Linked DNA regions of Homo sapiens. The protein of the gene in region 3 purifies or fractionates together with the protein of the main gene of each other region. This does not show direct contact. Each region holds a gene or a part of one and is shown on either strand. Other genes may lie near its edges.

Region 1 (4,052 bases), on a different chromosome or scaffold from region 3:
AGATGTCGTTAGTCTGTGTATGGGGAGTGAGGGAAAGGAAGAACTTGCCAGTTTCCAGGTTTTAATCCTTCCAAAGGATTTCTGCAGAAAGACACTGGAAGAGCTGTATTCCTACTTATCCTTAAAGGAAAGAAACTGCCCTTGAATTCCAAGGACATGATTACTGAGCTGGAATTCCAAATAATGTGTCCCAGTGAGACTCCTGGGGGTAGTTTTGTCCGGTAACTGTGTGTGTTAGATGAAACTGCAGACTTCCAGCCACTCTATCTTACCATGTCTGTTAACAGTTAATTTGCTCTGATGAATTTGCCCATCTTGGAGAAGGGGGCTCTGCTGACTGTTTTTTATCTTGGAGTAAATGTCCTTTGATTAGGAAGGTTCTAGACTATATTGTTAAAACAACATTGGAAGGCTGGGCATGGTGGCTCATGCCTGTAATCCCAACACTTTGGGAGGCCAAGGCAGGCGTATCGTTTGAGCCCAGGAGTTCAAGACCAGCCTGGGCAACATGACAAAACTCTCTCTACTAAAAATACAAAATTAGCCAGGCATGGTGGAGTGCGCCTGTATTCCCAGCCACTTAGGAGGCTGAGGTGGGAGAACCACCTGAGCCCAGGAAGTTGAGGCTGCATTGAGCCATGATCGTACCACTGCACTGCAGCTAGGTGACAGCAAAACCCTGTCTCAAAAAAACACCAAACAACATAGGATACTGTTATATAACAGCTAGTTCCTATACCTGTAATCTTATTAATTCATTTAAAATACATCAGTGCGGGCCGGGTGTGGTGGCTCACACTTATAATCCCAACACTTTGGAAGGCCAAGGCGGGAGGATCACTTGAAGCCACAAATTTAAGACCAGCCTGGATAATATAGCGAGACCCTGTCTCTACAAAAAAAATAAATAAAGAAAAAATAAAATATGTCAGTGTGTTTTGGGAACAGGTTGAGAGCATAGCATGCTCATATTATATATTCATTTTACCACTTAGATTTGAATTGAGGCATCTCTTAGAATAGGTTTTATTTTGTGCATACCCTCAGAGGACATTGTCCCTCTCATAGAAACAGATATTCAAACATGTAATCTGCTATTTTATTTTAAGGTAATAGATTTTTATGATTACTGTTTGGAAAAAAAAAAAAGCAACTATAGGTTAGCAGTTGCTCCAGAATCTCCAAAACAAGCTTAGGAGATTTTTATTCTTTACCAGAAATGAGATGGCTTGGGAGGAAGGTGTGTGCATTACACACAGGTTGCTCTGTGGTCACTGCTCCTTCATACTGTGTTTCTGCCTCTGCCTGAACCCAAACCCCTCCCAGCCTGACAGAAATGTTCGCTTACGCAGCTAGCCCTGCCTCAGTTTGTACATCTACCTGTCGGCTGAGACATCAGAAGTCGATGTCCATGTCAGCCTCTGGGCACCCCAAGATGATGTTACCTCCAATAGACAGTGAAGGAGATAACTTCAAGGCTATGTAAGAAAAATGCACATTCTTTGTGAAACTAATGTGTACCCACTGCTTCTTAATTTTGTGCTGTGGATTTTATAGTCTGAGATTTTGTTACAGTTGTCCACAAGGCGTCCTTCCTCCATGTGATTTTAGTTAAGCACATCTTTTGTCATGATGTCCTCGGTTGTGTATTGTGTGTCTTCGTGCCTTCGCGTACTACAAAATGTATAAGAAGTTCCTGCTCCTCCCAAGTTGCTTTCAGCATGTGGAATTTTATACATATATCATTTGTTTACTTCCAAAACTTTTTAGTTGCCTGTTCTTCAGTTACGCCAGCATATCCTTTATTTCTTTCGTATTGGCACAGTTCTCTATGTAAGCAATTTGAGAGGGAAGCAAAGGGGAAAAGTTTGAGTTAGCTGTTCTCTGTCCTAGAATTTCCCTGCATTAATCTTGTCCTTGAAAATATATATAATACTGGTCCCTTAAACTCCATGAGGCTTTGTCTCATTATGTATTGTTCTTTTGGTACCCTTTCCCACTTAACTTACCTTTTGCTCCTAAGTCCTATAAAATACCCCTTGGATCTGGATTTTTTATACCCGATTTTCTCCACTGTGTATAAAAGGTATATTGTGACTGTAAATTTTTGTATATCATGTTCTGAGAGCTTCTTACTTTCTGATCTCATAGCACTATTCCTGATCAGAGAACTCCAGTTGCTTCAACACACAGTATCAGTAGTGCAGCCACCCCAGATCGAATCCGCTTCCCAAGAGGCACTGCCAGTCGTAGCACTTTCCACGGCCAGCCCCGGGAACGGCGAACCGCAACATATAATGGCCCTCCTGCCTCTCCCAGCCTGTCCCATGAAGCCACACCATTGTCCCAGACTCGAAGCCGAGGCTCCACTAATCTCTTTAGTAAATTAACTTCAAAACTCACAAGGAGGTAAGTGCTAGGTGCTGGTTGTTTTGGAGTGAACACATAGAGCAAAAGGAAAGATGTCTTTTTTGTTGTGTGAAGCCACTGCTACCTGGATGCTTTTCAGTCTGCCTTCAGCTCATGGTTTTCTGGTTTTATATATATCTAACTTTATACTTTAAAACCTTTAAAGTAGAAATTGTAGAGCTCAGAGTCTTCATAACACTAAAAGTTAACTAGCATTTAGGAGGTTTTTGTTACTGTTCTTTAATTATTGTTCCTTTTGCTCACGTATCTGTCTGCATGGCATGTTCGTTGTTGTTGAGCAGGCAGACCTCGAGTTCTGGTGTGGGGTGGGGGGCTGGCACTCTGTAACAATCAGCAGGAAAGACCATGCATGTCTTTCATAATCATCTCCAGCCCCAGAGGAAAGAGACAGCTTCTCTTTTCTCACTTTATTGTTGTTAAGGAGCAGTAAATTTCTTAAGAGTCCAAATCTTGAAAGTTTCTCTCTCAGTCTTAGTAATTTATATTGAGAGCAAGGTAATGTCCTTAAATGGTATAGTTTTGGAGATAAAATCTCTGGTTTATTATCAAAAAATAATGTTACTATTATTAAGTTATTTTTATTAAATGCTGCATGATTCTTGGCTGATGGTCCTGGAAATTTTTTAAAATGTTCCATGTGTCTAGTAGGCTAGCATCTGGGGCCTCAGTAAACTCTCAAGGGTCCTTTGAGATTAACTTCATTTCCGTAACCTTGTTACCTGTTACAAAAGCCCAGAAATACTGGCTGCTTCAAGAGGAAAAAGAAAGGATACCACTTTGAACCGTAAACAATAGTGAAAGGCACCTTTCCGAGAAGGAGCCCAGGAAACCCAAGAGCCCCTGCAGTTTCAGGACATCCTTGGAGAAATGTTTTGAAATTAAGCCTAGCTGTGGATGAGTCTGTCTGTGGTATCTTGCAGGTTTGCCTAGGACGGACCCTCTTATTTGTCATCTGTAGCTTACAGGACAGCAGTAGGAGTCTTTCCCGAGTCTGAAATGATCAGTACCCTCCTCTGTTTTTCTGCATTCCCTATGGCCTATAGCCTATTACTTCATTTCACTCCATCTCCATTATTTAAACTAAGCTAAATGTAATCTTGTATTCGATCATCTGAAACTTCGGTGAGTCACATTAAAGTCTGATCTACTTATTATTAGGACATGGAATAGATTAGGGAGTATTCCTTTTTTTTTTTTTTTTAATTTTTTTTTTTTTTTTGAGACGGAGTCTCACTGTCGCCAAGGCTGGAGTGCAGTGGTGCAATCTTGGCTAACTTCAACCTCCGCCTAGATTAGGGAGGATCTCTGACATCCATTAGCATTAACTAGAAGTCAGACGCATCAGAAGGTTTCTATTTACCCTCTTACTCACTTCTTAGCCCCTTTATTAAGCCACCTCATTTTAAACTGGGCAAAACAGAATCAGCCAAAGAGCTTTGCCAGGTTTGGGACACCCATTCATGACCAGCCAGCAAGAGAGACAGTGAGTTCAATCTGAGAAGAGTCTGGTGACTCCCAGAATAAACCATTCCTTCCTGGCCAGCCGTGGTGGTTCATGCTTGTAATCCCAGCACTTTGGGAGGCCAAGGCGGGTGGATCTCCTGAAGTCAGGAGTTTGAGAC
Region 2 (4,052 bases), on a different chromosome or scaffold from region 3:
ATTCTCCTGCCTCAGCCTCCCAAGTAGCTGGGATTATAGAAGCCCACCACCACATCCAGCTGATTTTTTTAATTTTCAGTGGAGACGGGGTTTCACCATGTTGGCCAGGCTGGTCTTGAACTCGTGACCTCAGGTGCTCCACCTGTCTCAGCCTCCCAAAGTGCTGGGATTACAGGTGTGAGCCACTGTGCCTGGCCAGTGCTTTACTTCTGTCTTTAGTACAGGCTAATGGTTTGGAGCCTACTGGCGTGCATATGACAGTCAGATAATGACTAATATTACTCATTCTTAAACCATGTGAACAGTGTTGCTAGGCAAGTCTTTTTTTAAGGTAAGACTTGTAAGTGAAATTACCACTAAACTTTGTGTGTGAGAAAGACAAAACTTTTTTTTTTTTTTTTTTTTTTTTTGAGACAAAGTCTGACTTTGTCACCCAGGCTGGAGTGCAGTGGCGCAATCTCAGCTCACTGCAACCTCCGCCCTGCCAGGTTCAAGTGATTCTCCCACCTCAGCCTCCCGAGTAGCTGGGACTACAGGCGCCCACCACCATGCCCGGCTAATTTTTTTTTGTATTTTTAGTAGAGATGGGGTTTTGCCATGTTGGGCAGGCTGGTCTCGAACTCCTGACCTCAAGTGATCTGCCTGCCACGGCCTCCCAAAGTGCTGGGATTACAGGCATGAGCCACCGTGCCTGGCTGAAAGACAAAGCTTTTACAACTATTCTTAAATTATCAACTTTTGATAGATAATATCCTTGTTTTCTGTATCTTGCTTTGATACTGCTTTCAAGGAGATAATCTCATTAAAGCATTTTACTAAAGGCCAGTATAGTGAATGTAATCACTTTTACACAGAATTGTGTCAGCATGACAAATGTGACTACTGAGACATCATTCTGTTAACATTAAAATAAGTTTGTAGGTGGTAATGGAATATGTGGCAGTTACGATCATGAGCTAGGAGAGTGGAACACTTGCTGTCTTTTTCATAGCTAGTCATAGGTCCTTAGCGTGTAGTGATCTTTATTATCTTCCAAGGTGAAGAAAGGAAAAGGCTCGTATGTTGAGAAGCATAGGAACTTGAGTCCCGCAGGTGTTCAAGTGGGCTAGGCTGGTGTGGGTTTTCAGATGATCATTGAGTTTTTCTCCCAAATTTGTATAGGCACTAGCACAGTAATCCTGTGCACTTAAATCTGGCAGCAGCTGTCAGGGGTGATGGGCTGGTATGGGGAACCCCTCAGTCCCCAGAGGAGGGTTTACACAATATTGCAGGGGGCTGTTGCCCTGGGGTTTTCAAGATGCACCATTTTATCTCCTAGTGCTGGGCTTTGACAAACTTCCTCTGTGGGGTACCATCCTCATCTCGGTGGGATGTGCAGTTTTCTGTGCCCTTATCGTCTGGTTCTTTGTATGTCCCAGGATGAAGAGAAAAATTGAACGTAAGTAATAACTAAACAGCAGAAAAGTTTAACTACTAATGTTGTGTTTATTTTTTATTTGGCCACCTGTAAAAATCTATTAGAAGAGATTGGCAAAATAAGAGATTTTAAAGGGAAATTTGAGGATATGGGTTTGTTGTCCAAACTGTTTTTAGAAATGGACTTACATGACCTAAGACCTGTTCTTAAAAATGGACTTACATGACCTAAGACCTAGTGATAAAGAGTATTCAACCTATGCTGTAGAGACAATCTGGGGCATTGAATTTTTTTATGTTCCTTGATCAGTTGCCAGTGACATGATAGATAAATAGAGAAATCATAGCCTACATTTACTGAGAAGTAGAAGGATACCTTAATGAAAAATAAGGGGTAGATACAAGATATTTTCGTAGAGGAAATATTTACCCCAACTGCTTCTGTGTATAACTTCAGATTCAGACAAGCAAAGCTAAGTCTAATGTGTACATGTTGTATATAGGCTAGAATACATGTAGACATTGTATTGCAGTATACAATGCAAATACATATACAAACACACATTGTGTGTCTGCTAGAATTGTAGCACAGATTCTAGAAGTAAACATTTTCAAGTGTCAAGGAATCATTTAGGCCATTACCACACACTCATGTAATTAAATACTGAGTAAATTTTGGTTAGTATCGGACTTTTTTTTCCTTAAAATAATCATTTTCTGCCCTTTTCATCGATGTGAAGGCTGGGTTAGCAAGTTGAAGTTTATCGTTTCGAAGCTGAGGGATGCATAGACTGCAGTGGTGTTAGGAAGAACGCTGCGTCACCGCAGCTGAACCGAAGAGCCTCCGAGAGGTTCTGTGCTAGTCTGGCTGTGCCGAGTGCACGGTGGGAACCAGGCTTTCAGGACTCTCTGGCCTCATTTTCCCTCTCTGGGAGGAGTTGAGACAAGTCTTGCTTTATGTTAGTCAGTCTGTAGTTTGACTGAGGTGCCTGGATGGATAGGTCAGCATACTGAGCACTGGCATGAGAGAGGCAGAAGATACTCTGGTCTGCCTGTGGGATTTACAGCCATGATGCACATCTCTTTGTTTTATAGAGGTGGAAATTAAAGTTGTCGTCTTTAGTTCCCTGCATTGAGCTGTGCCACTTTGCTTGAATTGGTGGACTGAAATTTGAGAGAATCCTCTTTTGAAAAGAATAGAATTGGGTACAGTTCAGATTTTTAGTTTCAGCTTATCAGCCCCATGGTTGAGCTACTTTCCCCTACAGAATGAGTCAGCAGGGAGCTAAGAAGGGTTCTTATATCTGTAAAGGGTTGTAAAAATAAAAACAAAACAACAATGTGCTACAGAAGCCCGTAAAACCTAAAATATTTACAGAAAAATTTTGGGACCCCTGACATAGGGTGTTCTGCATTGCTGGTTGTTCCCAAGTGAGAGTTGCTGGCAAATGATAAAGCAGGCAGGAAAAATGTTCCTGAATGTTAATTGAAGTTCACATACATTCTTGTTTTGAGATGAGTTTTTTGGGGGTGGAGGAAAGGAGACGTGGAACAAAGTAGTATGGCCACAACCAAACCAAAAAAGACCCCCCTTTTTTTTCCTAGGAGAAATAAAGTGTAGTCCTTCTGAAAGCCCCTTAATGGAAAAAAAGAATAGCTTGAAAGAAGACCATGAAGAAACAAAGTTGTCTGTTGGTGATATTGAAAACAAGCATCCTGTTTCTGAGGTAGGGCCTGCCACTGTGCCCCTCCAGGCTGTGGTGGAGGAGAGAACAGTCTCATTCAAACTTGGAGATTTGGAGGAAGCTCCAGAGAGAGAGAGGCTTCCCAGCGTGGACTTGAAAGAGGAAACCAGCATAGATAGCACCGTGAATGGTGAGTTGGAATTCCTGGTTTCACTTTTGTTACCTGCAGTGGTGAGGAGGCTTATTGTTTTGGATTTGATGCTTTTTGTATTGAATGTCACCTTGGTGATCTTGACTAGGTGCAGTGCAGTTGCCTAATGGGAACCTTGTCCAGTTCAGTCAAGCCGTCAGCAACCAAATAAACTCCAGTGGCCACTACCAGTATCACACCGTGCATAAGGATTCCGGCCTGTACAAAGAGCTACTCCATAAATTACATCTTGCCAAGGTGGGAGATTGCATGGGAGACTCCGGTGACAAACCCTTAAGGCGCAATAATAGCTATACTTCCTATACCATGGCAATATGTGGCATGCCTCTGGATTCATTCCGTGCCAAAGAAGGTGAACAGAAGGGCGAAGAAATGGAGAAGCTGACATGGCCTAATGCAGACTCCAAGAAGCGAATTCGAATGGACAGTTACACCAGTTACTGCAATGCTGTGTCTGACCTTCACTCAGCATCTGAGATAGACATGAGTGTCAAGGCAGAGATGGGTCTAGGTGACAGAAAAGGAAGTAATGGCTCTCTAGAAGAATGGTATGACCAGGATAAGCCTGAAGTCTCTCTCCTCTTCCAGTTCCTGCAGATCCTTACAGCCTGCTTTGGGTCATTCGCCCATGGTGGCAATGACGTAAGGTCAGTTGACATTGATCTTAGTGTTGCTAACCCTATTTTTAAACCATTTATCCTTGTCACAGGCCTGTGCTTGTGGTAGTGGTACTCCTAGCA
Region 3 (4,052 bases):
CTCACAAAACACCTCAGCTCCAGCCCAGAAACTGGCCAGGGAGAAGGCCCATTGTCCAGCAGGTCAGACCCATCCAGACAACATTCCCCTGGGAAGAGGGCCTCACATTTGCCCAGTGGGACAGGCTTCCTTTCCACACCCGCTTCCAGAGGTCATGCGTCCATGAATGAAAACACCCAGTTGGAGCTGCCAGTCCCAGAAAGAATCTGAAAAAGGCACATGCATGTGTACAGCAAGCCTAGAATAACCAGGGGAAAGCATGGGGCTGTCCGAAGGCGGGAAGCCATTATTGGTCCTGGGCCGGGAAGAGACATGGCTGACCCTTGAACAATCCCAGCCTGCTTTATCCATTGATTTCCAGTACCTACCACTGCCTTAGTCAGAGACATCACTGAGCAATGTAATAGAGTCAGAAGAAGGCAGCAGCATTTCCACCACCAGAAAACCTGGGCATTCAGTAGCAGTACCCCCAGGACCACAAGGAATAGGCACCTCTAGGGCTGGGATGGACCCGTAAGTCTGGTAGAGAATGAGAGACCAAAAAAGAAAGCCCAGAACAAGGGGGTGGGTGTCTGTTTTGGAACACAGAATTAGTGATAGAACCGGAGGGAAGGAAGAGAAAGAATTCTGAGAAGGAAATAAAGTCCCCTTTGTAAAGACCCCAAAAACAGATGGAACTAGGAAGTCTGAACCTCAGCAAGCACTTCACATACCAGTGATGTGGAGCACTTGGAAACTGGGTCTTTGAAAAATGCTTCCTCCACCCTAAGAGTCCAGTTTGTAATCACTTCCCAGTGCAGCAAACTGTGTCTCACTGAGTTCAAGATGAGACAGACAGAGTCCCACAGAAGCGTTCCCTAGCCAAGCTTGAAGCAGGCCAGGGGAGGAGTAGAAAATAAACATGGGGGCAGCCACAGGGGGCTGCCAGCCTGCCAAGCCCAATAGACAAGCCTCCACAGATACCAACCGCTCCACCAGGGCCTCCAGTGTCGGCTGCCTGTCTAAGGCAGCGCTGCCCACACCTCCCCAGGTCCACAGCAGGAAGCCTGGCCCTGCCCTCAGATTCCCATCTGGCCACCACACCCTGAGGGAGAGACTTGCACCCATACCTTTGGGGAGAGGCTGCCCACCTGCCCTGGTGTCCCCGGCCTGGGGGCTCCAGGCCCACAGCCTCTGCGGCTCCCCGGAGCGCCACATGGCAGGTCCACTCAGGGGAAGGGGCATGCCCACGGCCTGCTACAACCCCAGTGCTCCGCTTGGCAGACAGGGCTAGCCTTAGCTCCTGAGGCCCCCAGGTGAGCAGAGAGGGGCTGCTGGGCAGGCAGAGAGTCCCCAGCAACAGGCACTTCCTGGCATTTCTGCGTGTACGGGAGGAAGAGGCTGAGTGCCAGCCTTAAGGCAACGGTCAGAGGCGAGTGGGCGGGTGCGGGCAGGCAGGCTGCCCAGCCACCCACAGCCTCCGCCTCCCTGAAACCTGAACCACTTCTGGGAAAACTCAAGGACGCCAGGATTCTCCTCGGTGGTAAGCTGTACACCAGAACCACTAATTTTGAACCAAACTCTCACGTGCTGAGCAGATTTCACTAAGCAGGAATCTCCTAGGCTTTGAGGAGAACCTCACCTCCAACCCTGCATCCAGAGTGGGGGGATGGATATGCACTCAAAAGCCGTTACCCCTACTTCTTACAACTGTAGACCTCTTTGAAAGCGTGAGAACATTCTAGATCAGTGGTTCCCAATCTGAGATGATTTTGCTCTCACCTCTGCCAGGGACATTTAGCAAGATCTGGAAACATTTTTGGTTGACATGATTAAAGAGGATCTACTGGAATTTGTGGGTAGAGGCGGGGATACTGCTAAATATCCTACAATGCACAGAACAGCTCAACCCACCACTACCCATACACAACAGAGTATCATCAGGCCCAAAATGTAATAGTGTCAAGGTTGAGAAACCCTGTTCTACAGTGAGGCCCATGCAACCAGGACCCTGCCTCAGGACTATCTAGAGTCTATCTACAGTCACTAGCAAAAATATTATCCAGACCCAGTCCTCAACCCTCCAGATCCCAATCCATGGTGACAGGTCAGTATCCGTGAGTGGATCTAAACTCCTGAACCGATACTCCTTGGTTCTCATTTGCACTACCCTGAGCTCCCAAGCAGAGGGGCTGAATGCATAGGCTGGCACTCAAGAGGACAGCTTTCTGGAAAGAGAGACCAGGGCTAGAATCTGAACATCCGGCAGGATCACAAAAGGCAAAGTAAGTGAGGTACCAAGGTGGAAAAAGCACCCCTCCCCCGCAGAACAAGCTGCCCCTTAAGACTACTACAGTGGATATGTGCAGGGCAGCCAGGACTTCAAGGAGTCTAATCAGGGGGCAGTAGGTTCCCAGTATCTGTACAAAACAGAGTGGGTGCATACAATGTACACACACATGCACACATATACCGATTTACATTTTCCTGGAGGAAGGGTCCACAGCTTTCATCAGATTCTCAGAGGGGTCTATGACATGGAGGACCACTGTATAGAATGTGGGCTCTTCATTGGCTCCTTATAACAGGAGTTCCTTAGGTGAAGTGCCAGCAGAGGTCCAGGTGCTTCTGGAGATTCTTGATGCCCAGAAAGACCCACAGAGTAGTACACAGTAGAGGCCCACCCAAGTGATGGGAGGCCATAGGGTTTAGATCTTATGTTTTTACCCAGCTATAGGGCCTGGAAAGATGGGCAGGTTTCTCACATCATCTGCCTTGAAAGGGCCCCTAAGAGCTAGGGAGGATACCCATTCCTCCCAAAAGGCAGCCCACCCAGACAGGGCAGAGCCTCGAGTGCCCAGCAGATACAAGGACAGGTAGCAGAAAACACTCTTCTCTGGGAGGGGCACCCACGGCCCATGGCTCTGTAGCCCATGTCCTTGGCAGCTACCGCTACACTAGGCCTGAGGGATGAAAGTCACTTCACTTCATGAGCTCACTCCCTCCGCCCTCCCCCAAGGAAGTGGCCAAGAAACTTCTTTGGGTCAGCCTATCAGAGTAATCAGGGCCTGCACTTCCTGATGGGATAGACAGGAGGCAGGTCCCTCTCCAAGAGCTCTGGTCACTTCACTTAGAATACTGTTTACCCCACCCCCATAAGCCCTTTGATCTGAACCCCAAGTACAGAGTACAGAGACAGGTGTCAGGAGTTCTTGTAGGATACAGCATTGAGTGTCCAGGATGTCCACTGAAATGCAAGAGCCAAATGGCTTGTTTCCCAAGGACACTCGGCCAAGCACAGACCACAAAAGACTTGAAGAATTATTAAAGAACCAACTAACCACTGACTGATCTTGTGACAAGCACCATGTGACATTTATTACACCATAAATTCTACCTTCCCTTCTGAGATTCCATTGTCTAATATGGTAGCCACTAACCAAATGTTCTGCAGAGCACTGGAAATGTGGAAAGTTAGAGTTGAGGATGTTCTGTAAGGCACACACTGGATTTTGATGACAGTACAAAAATGGAATGCAAAATGTCTCGTTTTAATACTGATCTCAGGCTGAAATTACTTTGTATATATCAAATTCAGTGAAATATACTTTTTTTTTGAGACGGAGCCTCACTCTGTCACCAGGCTGCAGTGCAGTGACATGATCTCGGCTCACTGCAACCTCTACCTCCCGGGTTCATGCCATTCCCCTGCCTCAGCCTCTGGCGCAGCTGGGACTACAGGCGTGTGCCACCACACCCAGCTAATTTTTGTATTTTTAGTAGAGACGCATTTCACCACGTTGGCCAGGATGGTCTCGATCTCTTGACCTCGTGATCCTCCCACCTCAGCCTCCCAAAGTGCTGGGATTACTGGCATGAGCCACTGTGCCAGGCCAGTAAAATATACTATTGAAGTTCATTCCATCTCATGGAAAGAATGTGTCCCCCCAAAATTCATACAATGAAGTTCTGACCCCCAGTGTAATGGTATTTGGAGACGGGACCTTTGGGAGGTAGTGAGGGTTAGATTAAGTCATGAGGGTGGGGCCATCAGGTAATGAGAACAGGATTCA
Region 4 (4,052 bases), about 19 Mb from region 3:
CAATATAACTGGATAAATATGTAAACTTTCATTCACACTAATAAACGTGAAATGTAAGCTCTACAGAAACAAAAAGCACAGTCACAAATAAAGCATTAATCTAATCATTAGATATTAAATGCTTGATATAATACTATCACTGTGTGAGATTATTTTTCAAAATTTGGTTTTCTCATCTCTTGGAAAACAAGAATTTTTTTTTTTTTTTGAGATGGAGTCTCATTCTGTTGCCCAGGCTGGAGTGCAGTGGCACGATCTCAGCTCACTGCAACCTCCGTCTCCTGGGTTCAAGCAATTCTCCTGCCTCAGCCTCCTGAGTAGCTGAGATTACAGGCGGCCCGCCACCATGCCCAGCTAGTTTTTGTATTTTTAGTAGAGACGGGGTTTCACCATGTTGGTCAGGCTGGTCTCAAAATCCTGACCTCATGATCCGCCCGCCTCGGCCTCCCAAAGTGCTGGGATTACAGGCGTGAGCCACTGCATCTGGCGGGAAACAAGAATTTAAAAACAACAAACTTACTTGCCCCACTCTTAAAACAATATTATGTAATTCATATCCAGGAGACAAGACATGTGCTAATCAAAGGTGTTAGTGATGGGGGTAATTAACTAAGGGTTGAGCATCCCTAATGTGAAAATCTACATTACAAAATGTTCCCAAATCCAAAAGGTTTTGAGCATTGACATGATGCCACAAGTGGAAAATTCTACTTATGACCTCAAGGTAAGTCAAAGTCAAAATGCAATCAAAATTTAGTTGCATGCACAAAATCATTAAAAATATTTTTTTAAATTACGTTCAGGCTATGTGTATAAGGTGTATATGAAGCATAAGTGACCCTTGTGTTTAAACTTGGGCCCATCCCCAAGATATCTCATTATGTATATGCAAAAATCCCCAAATGCAAAAAAGTCCAAAATCCAAAACACTTCTGATTCTGACCATTTCAGATATGGGATATGCAAGATTACCACAAAAGCTAAGATAATCAGTAACAAACAATAAAGCGTAAGACTCATACCCAGAAGTTCAAAAGAAAAAATGTCCAATAATTGAACTCTATATTAATTTATGCCAATTCTGCAAATTATTCCTTAATGAGTCAAGTATCAAAACGAGAAATGTACACATTCTTCTTAGTATATTTTGCCTGTAATATTTATTCATTTTGGGGACACTCCCTCTTTTCATCCTAATAATGCCATAACATGTACTTTTTAAGAAAATTAATTTGTTTTAAAAGTCACATTTATAATTTATATGCAGTAAAATTTACCCTTACCAAAGATCTAGAATAGTTCCATCACCTCACGAAATGCCCGCAGCCCTTATGTAGTAGATTTCCTCCCCCAGCCCCAGGTAACCACTGATCTGATTTCTGTCCCTATAGTTTTATCTTTTCCAGAACATCATATAAATGGAATCATTCAGTATCTTTAAATTATCTGGAAACTTTCACTTAGCATAATGCTTTTGGAAGTCTTTCACATTGTTGCATGTATCAACTGTTCCTTCTTTTTTTTAACTGCTGAATAGTATTCCATGTGCATTCATGTATTACATTTTGTTTGTCCATTTACCAGTTGATGGATACTTCGGTTGTGTATAGTTTTATACTGTTATGAATAAAGCTACTATATAGACATTTGCATACAGGTCTTCATGTAGACACATTTTCATTTTTATTGAATAAATACCTAGAAATAGGATGACTGTACTGTGCTAGAGCAACATATAAAACTAACCAATCTTTTTTTTTTTTAAACTAACCAATCTTTTGAAGCAGTATTCCATGTAGTTTACAAGTCATAAAAAACAAACAAAAAGGTCAGCCAGGCGCAGTGGCTCACACCTGTAATCCCAGCACTCTGGGAGGGCAAGGCAGGTGGATCACTTGAGGTCAGGAGTTCGAGACCAGCCTGGACAACATGGTGAAACCCCATCTCTACTAAAAATACAAAAATGTAGCCAGACATGGTGGTGTGCACCTGTAGTCCCAGCTACTTGGGTGGCTGAGGCAGGAGAATCGCTTGAACCTGGGAGGTGGAGGCTGCTGTGAGCCAAGACTGCAGCAGTGCACTCCAGCCTAGGCAATAGAGTGAGACTCTGTCTCAAAAATAAAAGAAAAAAGATCCCACCAAAAAAATCCATTTTAAGTCTTTCATGACTTTTTGAGCATTTCGTAACTGCTCATTTATAGCAGTGGTTTTTCAAGCTGGCCTATACATCAGAACTACCTGGGGAACTAGAACTTGGGTACCAATCCAAAGATTTAGCTGCTCTGGGTAAAGGCACAAACATTACTTTTTATTTTTCCTCTATTTCTTTTCTAAGTGCTAACAGTATCTCTTTTTTGTTTTTTCATTTTCCATGTTGACATTTTTCAAACATACAGAAAAGTAAAAACAACAGTGTGAGAAACATCATATACATATCACTCAGATTTAATGATTAATATTTGCCATTTTTCACGTCATCTATTTTTTCTTACTGAAGTATTTTAAAATAGAACACAAACATCATGACATTTCACTCCCAAATAAAATGCATCTCTTTTTTAAAAAAGCATGTTTTCTAACATTATTACAATATAATTCTCACACTAAACCAAACAAAAATATTTTTACATATAATACATATTCTATATTTAAATTTCCCTAATTGTCAAAGCTTATAACATGTACCCAGGGATGAACCATTGATTTATAACATGTAAAACATAACTATTTTCTTCCAATTTTTTCCACATCCTATATAATATTCATTTTTTAAATAAATTAACACCACCACCACAAAGCAAAAGGAAGTCAGTTAATAAAATTTTTTATTCTTTACCTGAAAATATCCACCTCATGAACAGTAGGTAAAATAACAGATATATTTGTGTCCACCTGAGAGATAGAAAAGAAAAATAAAAGAAGGTATCACCAAAATTTATGGAAAATTTTAAAATATATCTATCTCATGATCAATAAGCCATGCTGCCCTGTCTAACTTTTAAGATTCTCTTCCTTTAGGAACAGCCAGAGAGGGAATGGGTCTTACCAATATTCCCTAATATAGCAGAAAATCAAAAATAATGCAGATAACATGGATAAAGAATTAATCCCGGCCAGGCATGACAGCTCATGCCTGTAATCCCAGCACTTTGGTAGGACAAGGCGGGCGGATCACAAGGTCAGGATATCGAGACCATCCTGGCTAACACGGTGAAATCCCATCTCTACTAAAAATACAAAAAATTAGCCAGGCATGGGGGCAGGCGCCTGTAGTCCCAGCTACTCGGGAGGCTGAGGCAGGAGAATGGCGTGAACCCGGGAGGTGAAGCTTGCAGTGAGCCGAGATTGCACCACTGCACTGCAGCCTAGGTGACAGAGCGAGACTCCATCTCAAAAAAAAAAAAAGAATTAATCCCAAGCTCATGCCTGTAATCCTAGCACTTTGGGAATCCAGGAAGGAGGATCACTTGATGCCAGGAGTTCGAGACCAGCCTGGGTAACAGAGTGAAATCCCATCCCTACAAAAAATATTAAAAATTAGCCAGGCATGGTGGCATGCACCGTAGTCCTAGCTACTTAGGAGGCTGAGGTGGGAGAATCACTTCAGCCCAGGAATTGGAGGCTGCATGAACTACGATTGTGCCACCGTACTCCAGCCTGGGAGACAGAGGGAGACCCTGTCCTTGTTTAAGAAAAAATTAATCCAATAGTAAATCAGATTAATTTGCAACTGTATGAAATACTCCCATTAATACTGGTTGATATGTAACAGAAATACTAGTTTTCCTACTGCTATCTGTTTTTTATTCAATTCAAAGAACAAAGTACAACAAAAAAATGTACACCAGTTAAAACATTTCAAATGAAAACTTCAACCCCACCCATGAACAGATGGTGCTTTTGGAAAAATAAAGGGCAATTGTAACTACAGAATCCTTTTAACTGAGTTTTCTAAAATCAGAAGTCTGCTGGTCACTCTCCTAAGAGGTTCTGCCAGAATCAAAGCTTATTGAAAAAAATTCACTTTCCCCTTTTCCTCACAATTAAAATAT
Region 5 (4,052 bases), on a different chromosome or scaffold from region 3:
TCCCAGGTGAGCAGCATGCCAGGAAACAAAATGATCTGTCCCCCACTCACCAGCAGATGCTCTGACTCCCCGGGGGACAACATGTTGACACCTGTTGGCTCTGCTGGCTCCTGGACTTCCATTTCCTGCTCAGGGACCTGGGTGGGCTGCAAGATACTCACGATCTCATTGAGGACATTGTCCTCAGCCCCAGGTCGTTGTGAGCTCTGGAAAAAGACATTGGGAAGGCAAAAAGCCGACTCAGGAGTCCACACCTAGGGCTCGCTGCAGGGTCCTCAGTATGCAGCTGCACCTGACATCCCCACCCCCTCTCAGTGAGGTCACCGCAGGCAGCCCAGACTCAGCACATCCAGGACCCGCTGCTGGGGCCAGGCCCCCAGTGCTGTGCTCAGGCAGACACCCCATCCCTAGGGTGCAGGCTGTGGGGTGAGGATGTCACCTGGGCTGCAGCAGGGCTCACCAGCCTATGTGGTGCTCAAAATGGCCATGTGTCCCCCACAGTCAGCCCAGAGCACCCAGGCCACTTCAGAGAGTCAGGGCAGCCATGAGGACAATGGGGACCCACCCACCCAGGTTCTGCTGTCCCAGGAAGCAGTTCCTGAACCCCTGAGCCCCCAGCTCCTGGAGAAATCAACTCACTCTGTCCACACGCTCAGGGTCCCCACCACCACCTAAAAAAGAAGCAGTCTCCTTAGCAGGAAGGGAGGGGCCCATGAAGCACCCCCCTCCCAGAGGACAGTGGGGCGCAGGGCTGGGCTGGGGGCTGGGACACTGGACAAGGAGCCCTGGGGCTGGGGACAGAATGGGGCCTTACAACTCAGAGACACCCTGAGGAAGGGGGATGAGAAGGGGAACTAGAGTAAAAACAAACACTTGGAAAATCTCTGGTTCTGCTCTGACCAAGGCTGAAAAAATCCCACGACCACTTCTCATCCTCACCCTTGTCACCCAGTTGAGGAGCCGACTGCCCCCTGCCTGGCTGGGCCTGAAGATGGGAGGAACTGGCCCTGCCCTCCTGGACTTGGCTGGGAGATATGGGGACCCCCAGACCTGGGAGAGGGACTGAAGAGACCAGGGTCCTGGGGGGTGCACGGGATGTGGGGATGGGGGTGACCACGAGGAGGAGGATAGAGCCAGGCTGGAGGCACTTAGACTTGGGGCAGGGGCAGGCGTTTCTGTCTGTGGGAATAGGGTGGGAGGGGGCAGGGCAGAGAGTGCCCTGTGCCCCCGCCCTCAGCCAGCACCTACCTGAGCAGATGCCTTTCAGGTAAGGAAGGACTTTCTTCCACAGTAAAGACTTGCAAACAAACACAGCCACAATCAAGACTACGGCTGCAACTGTGACTCCTATGATGATGCCTGAGAGAGAACAGGGAGAGGCAGGAGTCCCTGGGCTGGAGGTCACCGTCTCCTCCACAGCTGGGACTTCCCCACTGTGCTTTGTACCTGATTCTTTGTGGACACATTCGATGTCACTCCAGGGTGTACAATCACCGACCTTGACCATCCCTCTGGGACACCTGGGTACACACACAGAGGGAGAGGGGGGACTCTTGATGGAAAGCTGGCCAGGTGGGATGAAAGAGGAGCCACCCTCCCTCCCCAGTGTCCCTGAGAAGGTGTCAGGGGAAGGACAGTCTCCTCGTGTCAGCAGTGGGTCCCCCTGTGCTCCCTTCTTGAGGCTGGGGAAGGGTCTGAGCATGCGCACTTCAGCCCCTCGGCCTCCCTGCTCTGGGGTCAGAGCTGCAGTTCCAGGAGCCTTCTGTGCTGGGCACACACTGAGCTTCCCTGGGCTGCAGGGGAGGCCTGCGTTAGGAGCAATCACACTCCAGGGGAAGGTCACAAGCCCGTGTGGCCACAAGATGAGTCCGGTCTTCCAGTCAACCACAAAAGTGAGCTCTTGTCCCCAGCTGTCTGCCCATTTCCCCCAATCACAGCAAATACTAGGGGGGCCAGAGAAGAGCAAATTACTCTTGGCCCCTAAAACCCAAATAGGGAAAAGACAGGTCTTACTGAGGGATCAGGGGCCAGGGGTGAGGCCGGCTGGGTGGGCTCAGGTCCTCATGGGAACTTGAAGGAGCTCCACCCATGGCCTTATTATGCCTTTTGTGGGCCATGGGCACTTTTGTCTTTATGGGCCCCTGCATGCATAAAAATATTAAAAAATACATTTTATTGCTGAATTGGTATAAAGATGAATATATGCCTGGCTGCATTCTACTCATTCTTCTTATTTCAAGAGAAATTAAATCATTTCATGGGCCCCTAAAATTATCATGGGCCCCAAGTCATGGCCTTCTGTGGTCAGTGAACAAGTCAGCCTGGTCAAGGGGACTCGTGCTGGGGAGGGGTGGAAAGAGGCTGCTGCAGGGGGCAGGGGTGGTGACACGCAGAGGGACCAGGAGGGGCAGCCACAGCCTCAAGGATGCCCCTTGCGGGTGCTGTCAGGGGAGAGACAGGGGTACAAGGAGACTTGGGTCTTTTGGGGTTCCATGGAGCTACTGGGAGCCCCCGGCTCCTGTCTCACCCTGTGCGGCACTTCCGGCACATCTCAGGAGAATCTTCTTCCCGGAAGGTGCCTTCTTCGCACTGACACACTGTGTTTCTGGTCGTGGTGCAGGGACTTAGCTCCACTTCACCTGACGACAGAGCATAAGGTTTTGGGAATGTGTTTTCCTGATGTGTCCCTTGACCCTTCCTCCCCACCCCAAGACCCTGCTACTCAGCTCAACTCAGTTTGCCAAGGAGTTCTGAGGGCCAGTTTCTGCACCAGCACACTCATGGCTCATTCAGGATACCCACCCTTCAGCTGTCACTAACACTCGTTGAGTCATACAAAAGGACCACAGTTCATTATTTATTACATTAGATTAGGGGAAAGCACCGTTTAGGGGACAAGCATCGTTTAGATTGCATGGCCAGTAGCAAGGGAAGTGCAAGGGATCACCTGAGAGACTGCAAGGAGAGGAGCCCTTGGGGGACTTCCCCAAGGCCCAGCCTGCTGGGGAGGAGGGAGAGGCCTGAGAACCTGAAGGGTGAGTGAGGCCGAGCACCTGCCAGGAGCACAGAGCCCAGGGGAGAGAGCCTGGCCCCAAAGCAGACCTGTGCCACTGCTGAGATCCAGCCCTGTCCACTTGGCCTGGCTCATGGCCCCACCCCCTTGCAGCTGACAGTTTAAAAGATTTCCTTACCATGTAGCATACATTATACAAATAATTTCTGTATTATTATTATTTTAATTAATTATTGAGACAGGGTTTTGCTCTGTTGCCTGGGCTGGAATGCAGTGGCACAATCTCGGCTCCCTGCAACCTCGGCCTCCTGGGCTCAAGAGATCCTTCTGCCTCAGCTTCCTAAGTAGCTGGAAATACAGGCACGCGCCACCATGCCCGGCTAATGTTTATATTTTTGTAGAGACGGGGTTTCTCATGTTGCCCAGGATGGTTTCAAACTCCTGGGCTCAAGTGATGCCTCCCAAAGTGTTGAGATTACAGGCATGAGCCACTGTGCCGGGCCTGTTTTATTTATTAAAAAGCTCAAAGACAAAATCATGGAACATGGTATGATGAAGACCAAGGTGGACCAGAATCTAGGTCTCCTGATCCCATTTTAGCTACAACTTTTATGTCATCACCCCGCATTCCACCTTTAGGCATGGGGTCCATATGTTCTGTACCTGAATCACACCTGGTGCAGCGCAAGCAGAAAAGGAGGTCATTCCAGTGAGTGCTATAGTCCTGTCCATATTTGCAGGAGATGCAATCTCTACCGTCTTCTGAGATATGGTGTCCTGGGAGGGGAGAGAAAAGCCGGTGAATGAAATGCCACAGGATTCCCAGAAGCTGGCAGTGGTGGCTGGGGGACTCCTCTTTCAGGGATGTGTGGAACCAAAAGAGGGAAATCTCCTCTACCTAGCTTGGTCAGTTCATCAATTCTGCATTTACACACCTTAAACCAGCACTGCCAAAAGAAATATAAGCCACACATTTATTTATTTTATTTTTTATTTTTGAGACGTAGTCTCACTCTGTCACCCAGGCTGGAGTGCAGTG
Region 6 (4,052 bases), on a different chromosome or scaffold from region 3:
GAGGGTCTGCAAAGTAGAGCACAGGGAGTCAGGGTCTTTTCTGTCCCTTGAGTTTCTTTTTCCCTCCCTAACACGTACATTCAGACCTGACCACTCTGGCGGGGATCTAGGAATTTGAGGTTGCAGTGTATCGGCTCCAGTTAACACACTGTCTTCCTCACCTTTTGCACATGGAGCCTCTAGGGGGCCTGCTAGGGTGACCACCAATGAAGGCACCAAAGGGACAAATAACTCAATGGACTAATGACCCACTGTGGCCACTAGGCGTCAGTGTGAGCTTGCTTGGCTCACTAAAAAGGATGGGGTGTGGGCATCCCCAGTTGCTGCCCACACCCCCATGGTTCCCTGGGGAGAGACAATTTATTACACACCTACCAGGTAAGAATACTCCATGCTAGATGCTCTTCTGCTATATCTCATTTAATGCTCACAACCCCAGGAAGCAGGTCCAGGTCCACAATCCCTTATTTGAAACCCTTAGGACTAGATGCATTTCAGAATTTAGAATTTTTCACATTTAGAAAGGCAATGGTTGTGCATAGAGCGTTTACTGTGTAAGATCCCCAGCAGCATCTGGGCCACATCCCATAGTCACACATATGAATACATCTGCAGTGAAACTTAAGACTAAATTAAATAAAAGACTATGAAGAGCCTTGGTTCAGGCTGCACCATCGAACCACTTTTAGTTTGAATAAGGGACTGTAGGCCAGTATTTTATCTTTTGCAATATACAGTATACAGAACTGGAAACCGAGGCCCAGAGAGTGTAAACCATTGACTAATAACAGGCTGGTTTAGACCTGGGGACTGCCTGACTCCACAGCCAATGCTCTACCAGCCCTTAGTCCCCATGGTTCAATCCAGGGAATGAAAGATGTGAAGAAGGCAAGCGTTTGTCCTGGGGACCATAGGGGGACTCTTAGTTTGTGTTTCTCAAACTAAGAGTGTGCTTCTCAAACACACCCCTTCTTCCACCCCCCTGCTCCAGACTGCTCCCCCCAGCCCACTCACGGTGCACATCCAGCTCGATGGAAGTCTCCTTGCCACTAGGGATGGCTTCGTTCATGCTTCGGCAAGTGAAGACACGCCCTATGTCCAGGTCCGTGGGGTTAATAAGCAGTTGGCTCACGGTGGTCTCCCTCTTCCCATCCTTCAGCAATTCCTGGAACATGACAAGGGTGGGAGATATGGTTAAGCTAAAAGCCCCCTCCTCTGCTCTTAAGTTGACCTCACTCAGAGATGGGCTTGGGCTGGAGGGGTACTTTAACTTAAAGCTCAATCCCCTTCACTCCCACAACCTCTTCCCTTGTGTGTGTGTGTGTGTGTGTGTGTGTTTAATCAATAGACTACTAATTATCTTTTAATTAAAAGTTATATATTTTTAGGGTCTTGCTATGTTGCCCAGGCTGGCCTCCAAAGCTTGGACTCAAGCAATCCTCCTGCCTGAGCCTTCTGAGTAGCAGCGACTACAGGAGTGTGCCATCATGCCCACATCACAGACTATCTTTTGGAGCAGTTTTAAGTTTACAGAAAAATTGAGCAGAAAGTACAGGGAGTTTCCATATACCCTCCTCCCCGACCTTACACTTTCCCCCATTACTAACACCTTAACACCTTGCATTAGAGTGATAAGTCTGTTACAACTGATGGACCGAAACTAATATATTATTATTAAGGCCACAGTTTATATTAGAGTTCACTCTTTGTGAGTCCAGCGCAAATCCCTTCTCTTCTGGAAAGCCTTCTTCAGCCAGCCCAGCCCTCAGAACTCTCTCCCAGACTGAATTTATGCCCTTATAGTCAGTGTGTCCTGCTCACAGCTCTAGACACATCCAACCTTGCTTGTAGGCACCATGTGTGCGTGTTTCAGGGTTGGGTTTCTTCTGCTAAACTGTAAACTCCTTGAGGGCAGGGAAGGGACTCACAGGCTCGAAGTCTTACACTTGCTCAGTGACAGCCAGGGGTCCCTAAATATGGTCACAGGAACCCTTGATCTGTTTTCTATATTGCAAACTGCCTGAGGGAAGCCATATTATTAATCAAAGTAAGACCCCGTTGTTTGACCACCATGCATGCAGCTTTGCTGGACAGGCCCAGTTGAGGGCCAGTGCAATAACACTGGCTCCCTTGTGCTGCTTTGAAGCTCCATTGTCTTTAATGAATATGAAAAATGGGGGTAGATGACAAATGGATATTAACAAACCAACTTGTTTGGTTGCCAAAATATCTAAAAACATGTAGCCCTGATGAAGAAAAATCACAGTTTTTGGTTGTGAAAAGGTTAAGTACCACTGAGGCTGAATTATCATTTGTCAAATGAGAAACTAAGGCCAGAAAAAAGTGAAGCGAATTATCCAAGGTCACACAGTGTGTTAAGGGCAGAACTGAAGCCAGAAGCCAGGTATTCCTGGGATTGCTTGCTGAGGAGCATGGGAACATCTCTGTCTCCACACTGAGAAGTGCTCCTGCAGCACCAGCAAAGGGCTGAATACACATATGTTTACCCACAACTGGCAGGGTAACCCCAACCAGGAAATCTGGCTTTGAATTCCAGCTGTACTGTCCGCTTTGCTATGTAATCCTGGGCAAGTCACTTGATATCTTTCATGGCTTCCTCATCTATAAAATGTATACAAGGATCTCTGCTTCCCCAGCCTCTTTGTTGTGATGACTGGAATAATCTGACAACCAGACGCTGAAGGAAAGAGGTAGAAGTGATCAGTGGAGAGAAAGCACAGTCAGACCCAGGTACAAACCCCCGCTCTGTGCCAGCTGTGTGACCTTGGACAAGTCACTCAACCTCTCTGAGCGCAAGTTTCCTCCTTTGTGAGTTGGAAATAATGCCTCCTTTATGGGACTCCTATGAAGATTAAGAGAGACTGTCCATAAAGTGTTTAGCATGCACGGTGTCTGGCACACAGTAGGTGCTTAATCCATGGCAACTTATTATTACTATTAGTCTCTGTTCAGCTACTGAATGACACAGTAAACCTAGGAATTCATTTCTCTTCTCTGGGTTTCAATTTTCCCAACTGTAGAATGAGAGGGTTGAACCAGATGACCTCTAAGACCCCTCTCATGTCTGTGTGCTCCTGAGTCTGTGGTGAAACCCCTGTGGGAAAGGAGAGGTGAGCTGGGCTAGGCCCAGGAGGAGCTGGGGGAGCTGGCTGGAGCTCACCGTGCTGGCCACAGCGCCCTCCTGCTGCGTCCCGTCCCGGAACCAGATGATGGTGGCAGCAGGCTTCGCATTGAAGGCCCGGCATGTGAGGTTGTGGGGGGTGCCTGCCTGCAGTAGAATCACAGGGCCTCCGTCAATCCTGGTGTCCTCTGGGGGGACTGTGGGAGAAAGCAGAGCAAAGTCAGTGCAGGGTGTGGCTAACACTTCCCTGAAGACCAAAACTCCTGCCTCTGGAAGCATCCTTCCACCTGCATGTGCGCCTCTAGGTAGGCGGTACCACCCTACCCCCTAATCTACAACCACTGTCTTCATTGCTCTTGTGGTGGCTTCCTCTAGGTCCTCAGCTCACACATCTTTCCCAGTCCTTGTCTGCTTTTCTTTCCTGGCCTATAATATTTTCTGGTACTCCATGCCCCTACTGGTTTATTGTTTGTTTGTTTGTTTGTTTTTGAGATGGAGTGTCACTCTGTCGCCCAGGCTGGAGTGCAGTGGTGCCATCTCAGCTCACTGTAACCTCCACCTCCTGGGTTCAAGCGATTCTCCTGCCCCAGCCTCCCAAGTAGCTGGGATTATAGGCGCCCACCACTGCTCCCAGCTAATTTTTGTATTTTTAGTAGAGAGTAGGGGTTTCACCATGTTGGCCAGACTGGTCTCGAACTCCTGACCTCTCAGGTGATCCACCTGCCTCAGCCTCCCAAAGTGCTGGGATTACAGGCGTGAACCACTGTGCCTGGCTCCATACCCCTACAGTTGCTCAGAGCTGCACACTACAGATGGAAGCCTCAAACTTAAGAAAGGGCTGGGCTATCTCAGGCCCTGAGTACAGCTCATAGTCTTGGGAGTCTGGCTCGGAAAGGTGGCTACCTCCATA
Region 7 (4,052 bases), on a different chromosome or scaffold from region 3:
CTAGGAGGAAAGACACAAAAAGGAAACCATTTTTAGGAATCCATGTAGCATTATTATTAAAGTCCCCACGTCCCCAGGTTCCCTTCCCCAGCCACCAAGCCTTCCCCAGCCTTGTGGCTTCTCTCTCTGCAATCCCACTAAAAGCCAAAATGCTCAGAGCTGAAACCAGATCCAGGGAGAAGATTCATACCTTTGCAGGAAGCAGCAGTTTCCTGCTGGGAGAGGAGCAAGGGGTGAACAGGGAACCATGTGGGGGCGTGGGCGGCTTGGGGTGCTGGGGAGGGAAGGAGCAGGTTGGGGGGTTACCTTGATCGGGATGTTACCTTGATCAGGTTGAAGAGCAGAGGCAGAGCCCGCAGAGGCAGCAGCTTGGCCATGATGCCCAGTACCAGGCTGACGTCCTCCCCAACACGGCCCACGAGCTCAGCCACTTCCTTGCCCACCTTTTGCAGGGTCGTCTTGCGCAAACCCAGCACAATGTAGAGGGCAGCCAGGTATTCCTGCATGGCGGGCACGGTGAACACGAAGGTGCCTGCACGCCCTGGCTCCACACATGGGGCCAGGAAAAACCTCAGGGCATCCCGACGGAAGATGTGCAGCAGCTGAAACTCCTCCTCCGTCCTGATGCCAGCCTCCAGGCAGCCACAGACATCCTCTTCAGAGAAGTAGGTCTTGCGGGAGGACACCCCCTCATAGGCCAACTTGCCCATGGTTCGGGCTGCATAGGCCATCAGGGACAAATTGGAGGGGTCAGTGCTGTCCAGGGTTTCCCCGCTGAAGTTGAGGCGCAGGAAGCTGGTATAGATGCTTGTAAGGGTCTGCCCAGCAGGCGTGGGGGCATGCAGGAAGTGCAAGGTGGCACAAACGAGCCAGCAATAGGACGGCAGGAAGCAGGCAGCGGCTATCTGGTGGTGCCCCTCCAGGTTCCGGGAGAGCATCTGCACCAGGTGGTCACGCTGAGCTGGTGTGGCAGAGACACCTGAACCGCCAACGGCATACCCGCAGTACGGCTGGTTGAGGCGGAGCTGGAAGTAGAGCTTCTGCAGGTTGGTATCAGAGAAACCGCAGATCTCACCATAGCGGCCCACGTACTTGCTGGGGATACGGCCAATGGCAGAGGGCCGAGTGGTCACCAGAATGCTGGCCTGGGAAGAGCATGGTTGAGAGTTAAGAAAGACCTTAGTGTCCTGTTGACTGCTTCTATTCCCAGGGGACCCCTGAAGACGGAGTGTCCAAGGATGAAGACATTGATGAGGATAACAGTTATAACTAGCAATTACTGAACACCTGCTGTGATCCAGGCCGCTGTGCTAATATTATATGCAGTACCCCATTTGATCAGAGCAACTCAAAAAGAAAGGAACAGAAGGCTGGGGAAGTTACTGACTTGCTCAGGGTCGCACCACTGGGAAGTGAAGGGACCAGGAGTTAAAGTAACCCAGGACCTAGGGGGCGAGTCAACGGGCAGCAGTGATAACCTGGGGTAAAGGGCCACCCACCTGAGGCAGCATGTATTTGCGCAGCAGGTTGACGATGATAGCAGCTGGTTCCTGCGGTTCCTCCGGGTCACTACAAAGTCCCGTGCCTGCCAGCCGGAAGTCGAGGTTGAGATGCTCTAAGCCATGGAGCACAAAGAGGAGGTGGGACCCAGCAGCAGCCATCAGGGGCAGAACCTCCTTCAGGGGCGTGTAGCGCTGGGCCACAAGTTGGCACAGGGAGGCTGGGGCAGGGCCCAGGGATGACAGGTCCTCACAGGAGAAGGGGATGAGCAGCTCGAAGGCCGGCAGCCGCCCATAACACCAGTCCAGAACCATCTTGCGCACCAGCGTGCTCTTGCCTGTGCCCACTGTCCCATACAGCACCACTGTCTGCACCCGGCGCCCACAGGCATCCGGGTTAAAGAGCTGAGACAAGGCCAGTGGGGGGAGCCCGGCCTGGGGTGGCTGATGCTCCAGGGCCAGCTCCGCGGGTGGGCGAAGTAGCTCATCAGGGGTACTCTCGCGGATCACAGGGTCAACGTGGACCGTGTCTAGGGCAAAGGTTGGGCCAAACTGGCGCTCCTCCCTGGGCAGCCGGCTGAACCACTCAGCCAGGTTCCGGCGGTGCCGCTGTATAGCTTCTGAGTGGGAAGATAAGGGAAATGTGTCAGGGAAAGGGGCCTGGAGATGTAGCTTAGGGCCAATCAGGGCGGTGGTGAGGTCAGGCTGGGACATCACGGCATAGATGCTGGGGCCCACAATGGTGGGCACACAAGACTCCCTGAGAAAATATAGACTGTCCAGAAAGTCTGGAACCCCTATGTCAGAAAGTGGGAAGCCACTGGACAAACTGGTTTCACAGTGACCTATGTGCCGTCTTAACCTGCTTGACCCAACTTTGTTGAGCATAGGGATGGTATGGCTCTCCTAGCGCTTTGTACATATAAGTGTGCATTGCAAGAGTATTGCAGGAAGGGATACATAGACGGATGGGAGGGAGAGAGAGAGAGGAGGAGGGACCACCGATGGAAGATGGCAGTGGATCCTCTATGCCTCCCTCACCCTGCTTCTCCTTCCAGCCCCGTCTGCCCACCACACCCCCTGACCAGGGTCCCAGCCAGTCCCTTTACCAGTTGCAGAGGCGCTGGGGAACAGCCGTCCATGCCTCCCGGGTGGGGGAGCGCTATCTACCGAGCTTCCGTGGTGGCGTATAAAGGCCCTGGGAACAAGGAGAGGGGATGAGCTGGGACTTGTAACTTGGATCAGCCCCTTCACAGGCTCTGGGTCCAAGCCTATCTGCACTGCTAGACTTCTGGTTTCCTGAGATAAAGGCCCCACACTGGACCCCCAAGTTTAGAGGCTTGTCTGACTCTCACACCCTTCCCAGGTGCTGAGGCCTTAGCCCTAGCCCTCCAGACCCCACTGCTGACTGCCCGCCTGGAACTCAGGCTGGCCATGTGAGGCTCCACCCACTTCCCACAGGGTCCTCCCTCCACTGACTACTATGCCTTCTACCACAGATGATCTAAGCCAACTTCCTCTCAGGCCTTGGAGCTGCCACTGTCCTCCCACCCCCAAAGGACCAAGCCCCTCCCCAAGGTCCCCAAGAGATCAAGCTAGCCCCAAGTCCTGACCCTTCCCAGTCTGCTCTGTTGTGCCCAGACTAGTCCTAAGGTATGACACCCAGGCCTCACCTAGGGGGCCCAAAGGGACGCTCCCCTTGAAGGGGCCAACTCCAGTGGATCAGGAAGGGGATACGATCATCTACAGAGAGAAGGAAGAAATAGCATCTGCAGATCCCATGCAATACACAGAACCCATGTCTACATCAAACCCCCCAGTATTTGCTCTCATAGCAGCATGTACTGCCCCTTTGCAGCAGTTATTTTGCAATTTTATATTTCATTGTGTGATTATTCGATTAACATTCATTCCTCTCTCCTCCATGAGAGGGATCACATTTGGGTGTTTTAAAATTTTTTTGTCCCCTTTACGTCTGTTTTTGTTCACAATTATTTACTTAGAACTTAACACCAGGTCTGCGGTACGGCAGGCACTCAGTAAATCTCTGTTGTATGTAAAGTAAAATCAGACAAGTTCCTAGACTTATGTAGCTACAAGAGACTCTCGAAGATGATCTAGTCCAACTCTCTTTTTTTTTTTTTGAGACAGAGTCTTACTCTATTGTCCAGGCTGGAGTGCAATGGTGCGATCTCAGCTCACTGCAACTTCTGCCTCCCGGTTCAAATGATTCTCCTGCCTCAGCCTCCCAACTAGCTGGGATTACAGGTGTGCACCACTACACCTGGTTAATTTTTTTTTTTGTAGTTTTAATAGAGACAGGGTTTCACCATGTTGCCAGGCTGGTCTCAAACTCCTGATCTTGTGATCCGCCTGCCTCGGCCTTCCAAAGTGCTAGGATTACAGGCATGAGCCACCGCACCTGGCCAAGTCCAACTCCCTTATTTTAGGTTGGGAAAAAGGCAGCTGAGGAAGGTGAAGCGACATGCTCAAGGTCAACAGCTAGAGAACCACGGAGCTGAGACTAGTGCACCTGGTGTCTGGATCCCTGCT

Evidence for each region.
Region 1: the proteins of ACVR2B (region 3) and MARK3 purify together in Homo sapiens (affinity purification with mass spectrometry; one large-scale study listed by BioGRID and IntAct). This does not show direct contact.
Region 2: the proteins of ACVR2B (region 3) and SLC20A1 purify together in Homo sapiens (affinity purification with mass spectrometry; one large-scale study listed by BioGRID and IntAct). This does not show direct contact.
Region 4: the proteins of ACVR2B (region 3) and DENND6A purify together in Homo sapiens (affinity purification with mass spectrometry; one large-scale study listed by BioGRID and IntAct). This does not show direct contact.
Region 5: the proteins of ACVR2B (region 3) and TNFRSF10B purify together in Homo sapiens (affinity purification with mass spectrometry; one large-scale study listed by BioGRID and IntAct). This does not show direct contact.
Region 6: the proteins of ACVR2B (region 3) and KIRREL1 purify together in Homo sapiens (affinity purification with mass spectrometry; one large-scale study listed by BioGRID and IntAct). This does not show direct contact.
Region 7: the proteins of ACVR2B (region 3) and NLRX1 purify together in Homo sapiens (affinity purification with mass spectrometry; one large-scale study listed by BioGRID and IntAct). This does not show direct contact.

The regions. Positions count from the first base shown.
Region 1 is NC_000014.9:103,489,626-103,493,677, forward strand, and holds part of MARK3 (MAP/microtubule affinity-regulating kinase 3), read left to right. Parts: intron 1-2,151; coding exon 2,152-2,409; intron 2,410-4,052. UniProt on the Homo sapiens protein: Serine/threonine-protein kinase. Involved in the specific phosphorylation of microtubule-associated proteins for MAP2 and MAP4. Phosphorylates the microtubule-associated protein MAPT/TAU. Phosphorylates CDC25C on 'Ser-216'.
Region 2 is NC_000002.12:112,655,804-112,659,855, forward strand, and holds part of SLC20A1 (sodium-dependent phosphate transporter 1), read left to right. Parts: intron 1-1,318; coding exon 1,319-1,438; intron 1,439-3,021; coding exon 3,022-3,291; intron 3,292-3,400; coding exon 3,401-3,959; intron 3,960-4,052. UniProt on the Homo sapiens protein: Sodium-phosphate symporter which preferentially transports the monovalent form of phosphate with a stoichiometry of two sodium ions per phosphate ion. May play a role in extracellular matrix and cartilage calcification as well as in vascular calcification.
Region 3 is NC_000003.12:38,456,747-38,460,798, reverse strand, and holds part of ACVR2B (activin receptor type-2B precursor), read right to left. Parts: intron 1,369-4,052; exon of another isoform or gene 1,225-1,368; coding exon of another isoform or gene 1,110-1,224; intron 1-1,109. UniProt on the Homo sapiens protein: Transmembrane serine/threonine kinase activin type-2 receptor forming an activin receptor complex with activin type-1 serine/threonine kinase receptors (ACVR1, ACVR1B or ACVR1c).
Region 4 is NC_000003.12:57,654,844-57,658,895, forward strand, and holds part of DENND6A (protein DENND6A), read right to left. Parts: intron 2,893-4,052; coding exon 2,837-2,892; intron 1,653-2,836; exon of another isoform or gene 1-1,652.
Region 5 is NC_000008.11:23,027,083-23,031,134, forward strand, and holds part of TNFRSF10B (tumor necrosis factor receptor superfamily member 10B isoform 1 precursor), read right to left. Parts: intron 3,791-4,052; coding exon 3,677-3,790; intron 2,640-3,676; coding exon 2,528-2,639; intron 1,521-2,527; coding exon 1,249-1,520; intron 672-1,248; coding exon 640-671; intron 207-639; coding exon 51-206; intron 1-50. UniProt on the Homo sapiens protein: Receptor for the cytotoxic ligand TNFSF10/TRAIL. The adapter molecule FADD recruits caspase-8 to the activated receptor.
Region 6 is NC_000001.11:158,083,709-158,087,760, reverse strand, and holds part of KIRREL1 (kin of IRRE-like protein 1 isoform 1 precursor), read right to left. Parts: intron 3,340-4,052; coding exon 3,182-3,339; intron 1,166-3,181; coding exon 1,015-1,165; intron 7-1,014; coding exon 1-6. UniProt on the Homo sapiens protein: Required for proper function of the glomerular filtration barrier. It is involved in the maintenance of a stable podocyte architecture with interdigitating foot processes connected by specialized cell-cell junctions, known as the slit diaphragm.
Region 7 is NC_000011.10:119,171,546-119,175,597, reverse strand, and holds part of NLRX1 (NLR family member X1 isoform 1 precursor), read right to left. Parts: intron 3,243-4,052; coding exon 3,173-3,242; intron 2,698-3,172; coding exon 2,609-2,697; intron 2,120-2,608; coding exon 1,500-2,119; intron 1,146-1,499; coding exon 324-1,145; intron 1-323.